Homo sapiens: one gene and its partner. The protein of the gene in region 1 interacts with the protein of each later gene in a pairwise test. Each region holds a gene or a part of one and is shown on either strand. Other genes may lie near its edges.

Region 1 (3,786 bases):
CCAGGACTGGAACCTACCACACCCCGCTGCCTCAGTGAGGCCTTGAGTGAGCACAGAGACAGACGCATACCTGGTCGACTCTGAGCAGACGCGGGAACCTCCTGCACCTTCAGGGCCAGGCCGAAGGAGCCTCGGTATGAAGAGCTGTCCCTTATGACAAAAGCCCCTGGCTCCTCCTTCCTCAGCAGCTCGATTGCTGGAACAATCCTTGAGTCAGAGATGGACACCGCCCCACCTGGACACCCTGTCCCCAGCCCCGTAGGGTCTTCACAGAGCAGATGTTACAGAGTCACCTTTTGTCCCCAGGAAGTCCTTTGTACTGTCAAATCTCCACCATTCTTGCTGTGGTTCCTACTTCCTCGGGAGGTCATGAGGTCAGCAGGACATCCCCCTCCCCCGCTTCCCAGGACCCACTATTTGCCATTCCTTAACTGTAACCCAGGGCCCTGCCTGATGCAAAGTGCAAGACCCAGACCCTATTCTGGGGTCACTCGTGCTTCCTTTTACCTTGCTCTCGGGTGATGTTTGGCTTAAACCAGTATTTAGATGTGTCCATCACGAACTTCATGGTGGGCTGCATGTCCCTGGCGGGACCTGGAGACAGACAGAGAAGGGGGACCCTGTAGGCTGGACAGACGGGAGCTGAGGGATGTTCACCAGAGAAGGCTGGAGACCCTTCCCTACTCTATTGCCCCAAGGTTTCATTCAACCACCATCCCAGACCCTAACCCCATTGTATCTCCAAACTGCCTACGATGAGGGAAAATCAAACAGAAGGATGCCAGGGTTTGGTGCATCTAGAACTCAGAAGTGCCCTTGTATCCTTGGTAATGAATAAGGAATGAATAGATACAACCTCAGTTTAAGGAGAAATGGTTTCTTAAATCTACTGTTGAGTCCCCTGGTGAGGACTGAAATAAGAGATAAACAAGGAATTCTCAAATGCATCATGTTTGATATTACATTCTCCTTCGTCTTCATAATCCTAAGAATTCCTTACGGGAATATTCAGCTTGGAAAAGAAAATGGCAGAAAACGTGAAGGAGAGGAAAATAGCAGATCTGGGCAGAAAAACATGCCCCTGGGAGGCGGGAGCCTGGATCTTGACTCTGATATGGGATAACTGAAGCTCAGAGGGGACCAAGTGGACTAAACAGCTTCTGAGGGTCTTTAATGTTCTAGTAGTCTATGGAATTAAAATGAATTTTGTTTTAGGAATATTTTGCAGAATTTGATAAGATCTGGGGGTATAGTTGGTGATATTATGGGACCAAAGCAGGATGGGAATATCACTAGGCTAAGTAAATGTGCGCTTTGGGATGCCAAAATGGCCATTTCCCTGGGTCCCTAAGGCAGAGAGCAGTAGCTGTCAACCTTGGCGGCTTGAAAAGGAGTGTTGTGACCACTTACTCTCAAGTAACTCATTCAAAAAAAGTACTAAAATCTGCAAATGATTTGTCCTAGGAAAGCGATCAGGGCAGATGCAAAGGCACGCCAGAAGTGTCATTTTCTCCTGCTTGCCTCCACATGGCTTCGTGAGTGGGAGTGAGCAGTGGGCTATAGTAAACATTCCACCCCCACCCCCTCTGGAGTCGCCTTGATGCCTGTGAGCGTCATGGCCAAGTGGGGGCTGAGAAGCCCCCCGATGGCCGAGGGAGGGGGAACAGGGGGTTGGCAGGGGACTCTGCTCATGGGAGAGGCATCCACAGGGTGCTAGAGCTTAGCTTCTGGGTTTACTGCTTGGGTTTGTTCTTCTTGGACGCCTGTGATCTCAGACTCCGGGAAGGAGGGTGTTTGCTGTTTTGTGGTTTTCGGCTGTCTGAACTGGAATGCATTGTCTCTATTACCCCATCCACCCCCTCTGTGTTCTCATCATCTGCGAACGTCAGAGTCAGAACTGACTCGCCCTCTTGCTCTCCTTGAGTTAGTCATCAAGCACATCCTGAGGGTCGCCTGGTTCTGTCCTCTCTCCTCCACTCCCACTGCCCTATCCCGGTTCAGGACCCTGCTATCCGTTGAGCTGCCAGGGTGATCCATTGAGCGAGCACCTCTGACCCCATCACTCTCCTGTGTGAGGAGGCTCTCTGATGGTACCCTATTGCTTAAAAGGCAAATTCCATTTTTTTTTTTTTTTTTAGCTTGGCATTTAAGGCCTTTCACAATCTGGTTTCAAATTACTCTCAATGACTTGAACCTGCACCCAACATTCCGGCATTTCCTGAACATGCCATGCGCTTCCACACCTTCATGACTGTGGACCCCCTGCTTTCTCTGCTGGGAATGCCTTTCCTCTCCTTCTCTGGCCACAAACTTCTGATCCATTTCCCAGATCCAGCTCGGATGTCGCTTCCTCTGTTCTCCAGACTGAAAGAATCATTCCTTCAGCTTTGGCCAATATGATTGAGAATATCTCTTTACCTCCGCGTTTATCCTACCCTACCGTGATGATTTGTTTTTGTCTCTTTCTAAACTGTTTCCCTCTGTGTGTCCTCACTACCTGGCATAGTGCCAGACACACAATAGTTGCTCAATAAATGTGTTGACTGGCTGTTGCAGAAACCCACTGGCACTTTGTCTATTCCCCAAATCTTACATTGCTTCAAATATTGGTTTACGACGTACCCTCTGGGCATGTGGTAAAGGGGGCATCTGACAGGGTCTGGCTGTTGCTCCTGGTGGCTGGACAGGGGTTGCTGGGAGAAGCAGCTCCAGGTTGAACGGAGTTCTGGTGTCCTGGGGTCCGCTGGGGTGGAGAAGACCCTGGTTCTGGGCAGCCGTTGATCAGCACAATGGGTATGTCCACCATGGAGTTGGTGATGGATGGGGGGCAGCTGCTGGCATGTTCTTTGGCCAGTGGTGGAGAGTGGGGTGTTCTGGGTTGGCCCATGGTTAGGGTGGGGTTTCTGGGAGCCTGGAAGTCACTGGGTCTTGTACACAGGGACACTGAGCCAAGGCTGTGGAGGCTGGAGGAAGAGTTGGCTGGACTTTCCAAGGATCTGGAAGATGACTGATGGCTGGAGTTGCTGGAGTGCAGGAGGGACTGGCTGCTGCAGCGGGAGAGAGTCAGACAGGGTGTTAGGGCAACAGGTGGCTCAGGGGCTAGAGTCAGGCTCCGGATCTGGTGATCTGGGTTCCCATGGCTTTAAAGGCCAAATAGAACACTGCATACCCCACCCCCTACAGCCCACAGCAAAGTGCATGCCCACCTAATCCTCAAGGGATGGTAAGGATACAGAAATGTCCTTGGATGGTAGGGTCTTTGGTCACTTAAAGTAGCCAATGAGCTGACCCCTGCAGGCTTTGGGCATAGGCTGGCCCACATTCCGTCTGCCTTCCCAGCCAGGCCGTTCTGACTGAGCTGTCGGATCAGGATCCCTTCAGGCCCCCATGACTCCCAGGAGCCCTGCAGATGGGCTGAACCTACGCTGGACCACACCGTGGCTGATGCAGAGGGAACTCCCCAGCTGCAGGAGAAGGCCAGCTTCACATCCAGCCAGACTTCTTCCTGAGCTCAGGGGCCTGTGCCAGTGGGCATGGCTGTGGAATCCCCAGCCTCTGTGCCAGGGACTGCCTTGGCCAGTGGCTTTGGAGGTGGAGTGGGAAGCAGAGTCCTGTGGTTCGGTCTTCCTGGGGCAGAATGGGTGCGCATGTGCCTGCAGTTCTGCTGTGAGGTCTATAGAGAACTGAGCTGGGATGATTGTGATTCCCAGGCAGGGCTGCCTCACTCCTTTGCTAGGTTTTGCCAGCAACAGAGGAAGGAACCTTTTTATTCCTAAATAGTTCATC
Region 2 (3,786 bases), about 35 Mb from region 1:
ATAAGGGTCTCCAGGGTGCTAGACCTTGTGCTAAGAACTTCTCATTTAATGATGCTGTTTTCTCCATGTGACTGCCCTGTAAGATAGTAGTATTAGAACAGAAGGTGGTTGGTGTTCTCGTGCAGGTCATACAGCTAGTAAGTGGAGGAGATGGGAAGCAAAATCAGTTGTATGAATCCAGTTCCCATGTTTCTTCTACCATCCTGCCTCTCTATTAATGGGTTAATAGTTCACTGAGGGTGGTGGCTTATGCCTGTAATCCCAGCATTTTGAGAGGCTGAGGCAGGAGTATTGCTTGAGGCCAGTTCAAGACCAGCATGGGCAACATAACAAGATCCTGTCTCTACAGAAGTAAAAAAAAAAAAAAAAAAATTATCTGGGTGTGGTAGCAAATACTTGTAGCCTCCCTCAGCCAGAAGGCTTAGGCAGGAGGATCACTTGAACCCAAGAGTTTAAGGTTACAGTGAGCTATAATTTTACCACCTCACTCCAGCCTGGCTGACAGAGGGAGACCCTGTCACTTTAAAAAATAAAATAAAAAAAAGTAAACCTGCCATTTTACAGGATACAGTGATAGTGCATGGTCTGATCCCTTGCCCTATTCATTTTAAGTGCCACATTCTCTATTAACTCCCCAGGGCCTGTGAGCATCCACTCCTTGAGGGAGGTGTCCATAGCATGGTGTAGAGAGCATAATTTTGTACCTTATATAGTTAAGTCATTTATTCCATGTAGCCCTGATTTGATTAGGCCTTGTTTGGTTTTTGTTTTTGTTTTTTTTGAGACAGGGTCTCTGCCCAGGCTGGAATGCAGTGGCGTGATCACGGCCCACTGCAGCCTTGACCTCCTGGGCTTAAGCGATCTTCCCACCTCAGCCTTCTGAATAGCTGGGATCATAGGCGTGTGCCACCACCCCTGGCTAATTTTTTTTTATTAATTTTTTTTTTTTAGCTAAAGATGATAAAAACAAGACAAAAAATTATTTTATTTATGTATTTTTTTTTTTTTTGAGATAGGTTCTTGCTCTGTTGCCCAGGCTGGAGTGCAGTGATGTAATCATGGCTCACTGTGGCTTCATCCTCCTAGGCTCAACCAATCCTCTCATCTCAGCCTCCCGAGTAGCTGGGACCGCAAGTGTGCACCACCATACCGAGCTAATTTTTTTATTTTTTTGTAGAGACAGGGTCTCACTGTGTTGCCCAGGCTGGTCTCGAACTCCTCCCTGGTCTCAAGTGATCCCCCCACCTCAGCCTCCTAAAGTTTTGAGATTACAGGCATGAGCCAAAATGCCTAGCCTAATTTTTTAAATTTTTTTGTAGAGGCAGGGTCTCACTATGTTGCCTAGGCTGGTCTCAAACAGCTGGACTCAAACCATCCTCCTACTTCAGCCTCCCAAAGTGTTGGGATTACAGACATGAGGCATGGCCCCCAGCCTTAGGCTTCATTTTTATGACCTATAAAATGGAGAGAATACCCTATAAATTTGTTGTAAGGCTTAAATAACGTGTGTAGAAGACTTAGTGCATTGTCTGGCATATAGAGAGCTTTCAATAATCAACAGCTATTATTATGGTGAGGCAAGAGCACAAGCTCTTGAGTCATACCTCTAACATTCACTTGGCTTTACTACTTTAATTTGTGTGGCACCGACCAAAGCACTTAATTTCCCCGTGCCTCAGTTTCTTCACCTTTGAAATAAGGATAATAATAGTGAAGAAGTTAATATATGTAAGGAATTTAAAATAGCATTTGACACATAAGTGCCATGCAAGTGTTAGTTGTTAATGACTGTTGCTGTCGACTCTGGTTAGACTGTAAATTCCTTAAGTTATCATCTTTTTTTATTGATTTTCCCTTCCCCCACCTACAAAACCTATCTTAGTGGTGAAACATAAGCCTGACCAAATGTTTTATTTTGGGGCATACTTAACTAATAAGTCTGAAGTGACAAGGATTTACTGTGTTGTGCTGTACTCAGCCATAAGGAACATTCTAAAGCAGAAGTTGGCAGACTTTTTGTGAAGAGCCAGATAGCAAATACTTTAGACTTCACAGACCATGTGGTCTCTGGCACAATTTCTCAGCTCTGCAGTTCTAGTGGAAAAGCAGTTATAGACACTACATAAACAAATAAGCGTGACTGTAGTTTTTTGACCCCTTCCCTAATGTCTAGACTGTGAGCTCAACAATGACAGTCTTTTTCATCTTTGTGCCCCTGTGACTAGCAGATACTAGGTACTGTTGTATGTTTGCTGAATGAATGAGCACACAGATTCTGAACAACACAGATTCCAAGTATGTGGAATCAGCAGGGTCGTCCTGGCATCAGAAATCAGTTCTCTCTTTTTTTTTTTTTTGACACAGAGTCTCGCTCTGTCACTCAGGCTGGAGTGCAGTGGCGCAATCTCGGATCACTGCAACCTCCGCCTCCTGGGTTCAAGTGATTCTTCTGCCTCAGCCTCCCGAGTAGCTGGGATTATAGACGTGCGCCACATGCCTGGCTAATTTTTTGTGTTTGTTAGTAGAGATGGGTTTCACCATGTTGGCCAGGCTGGTTTCGAACTCCTGACCTCGAGTGATCTGCCTGCCTCAGCCTCCCAAAGTGTTGGGATTACAGGTGTGAGTCACCGTGCCCGGCCAGCAATCAGTTCTCTTTGTCAACTTTATTTAGTTGCCTGTGGGACCCTGACATTCTGTATCTGTGCTCCTATGGCCTCTGGAGATGTGTGTGAAAATTGTCTCCTCGGCCCTTAGCCTACTTCACCTCTTGTGCTCACAAAAAGGGGACAGAGAGGAGGGAGAGGAATCCAGCAAGATGAAGCCAGCCTGAGAGAGCATAAAAACCAGTCATTGGTATTGTGGTCTTGCCCAAATCTTTCCCTCGTGTGAAGGAAGCCTTTGACAGTGAAGTTTAGAATTAAATACAGGGCCAGCTGAAGCATGGTGAAGCCCTCCAACTGCCTTTGCCTTGCAGAGCAGTCCATCATCAGCGAGTATGAGAAGAGCTTGCAGTTTGATGAAAAGTGTCTCAGCATCATGCTGGCTGAGTGGGAGGCAAACCCACTCATCTGTCCTGTATGTACAAAGTAAGAGTTTTTAAAACCTTTTCAGCATTATTCGTTCCCATTCCCCACTCCAAGGTGAGTGGAATCTCCCCCCAGATTTGTTGCCTGAAATTCAAGGTTTGGAGATCCAGGTCTGGTGGCCATGATGCTCTGGGATCCTAATTCTGCTTCTAGGTACAACCTGAGAATCACAAGCGGTGTGGTGGTGTGTCAGTGTGGCCTGTCCATCCCATCTCATGTGAGTGTTCCACACACAGATTTCATGATACTTCTTCCCACATGGATCTACTTTCTTGAAGATCCTCCAGTGCTGACTTGGAGCCCATTGTGCATATTTCTTCCCAGTTTTATGTTCAGTGGTGTCACATTGGTAGCTTCAAATCAGCCATGGTGAGAATATCTATGGCATGAAAATTGGCAAACAGTACACATCAGAGCCTTTAGGGCCCTGGAGAGCCATCACCGCTTAACGTTTTTATGGAGACCTCAGCTTGGGATTGGTAACGCCTGTATCTGACGTTTCATAAAAATTTTCTATATATGAAGACATACCTAATTCAGAATTTAAGCTTCAGTAATTTTTTTTTTTTTTTTTTTGAGACGGAGTCTCACTCTGTTGCCCAGGCTGGAGTACAGTGGCGTGATTTAGGCTCACTGCAACCTCTGCCTTGCGGGTTCAAGTCATTCTCCTGCCTCAGCCTCCCAAGTAGCTGGGATTACA

Evidence for each region. Proteins that work in one complex are often made in the same cells at the same time.
Region 2: the proteins of TNS4 (region 1) and RPAIN interact in a two-hybrid assay, tested with the Homo sapiens proteins (one large-scale study listed by BioGRID and IntAct).

The regions. Positions count from the first base shown.
Region 1 is NC_000017.11:40,484,414-40,488,199, forward strand, and holds part of TNS4 (tensin-4 precursor), read right to left. Parts: intron 3,048-3,786; coding exon 2,623-3,047; intron 595-2,622; coding exon 508-594; intron 197-507; coding exon 71-196; intron 1-70. UniProt on the Homo sapiens protein: Promotes EGF-induced cell migration by displacing tensin TNS3 from the cytoplasmic tail of integrin ITGB1 which results in dissociation of TNS3 from focal adhesions, disassembly of actin stress fibers and initiation of cell migration.
Region 2 is NC_000017.11:5,422,997-5,426,782, forward strand, and holds part of RPAIN (RPA-interacting protein), read left to right. Parts: intron 1-2,974; coding exon 2,975-3,086; intron 3,087-3,140; coding exon of another isoform or gene 3,141-3,211; exon of another isoform or gene 3,212-3,233; intron 3,234-3,239; coding exon 3,240-3,303; intron 3,304-3,786. UniProt on the Homo sapiens protein: Mediates the import of RPA complex into the nucleus, possibly via some interaction with importin beta.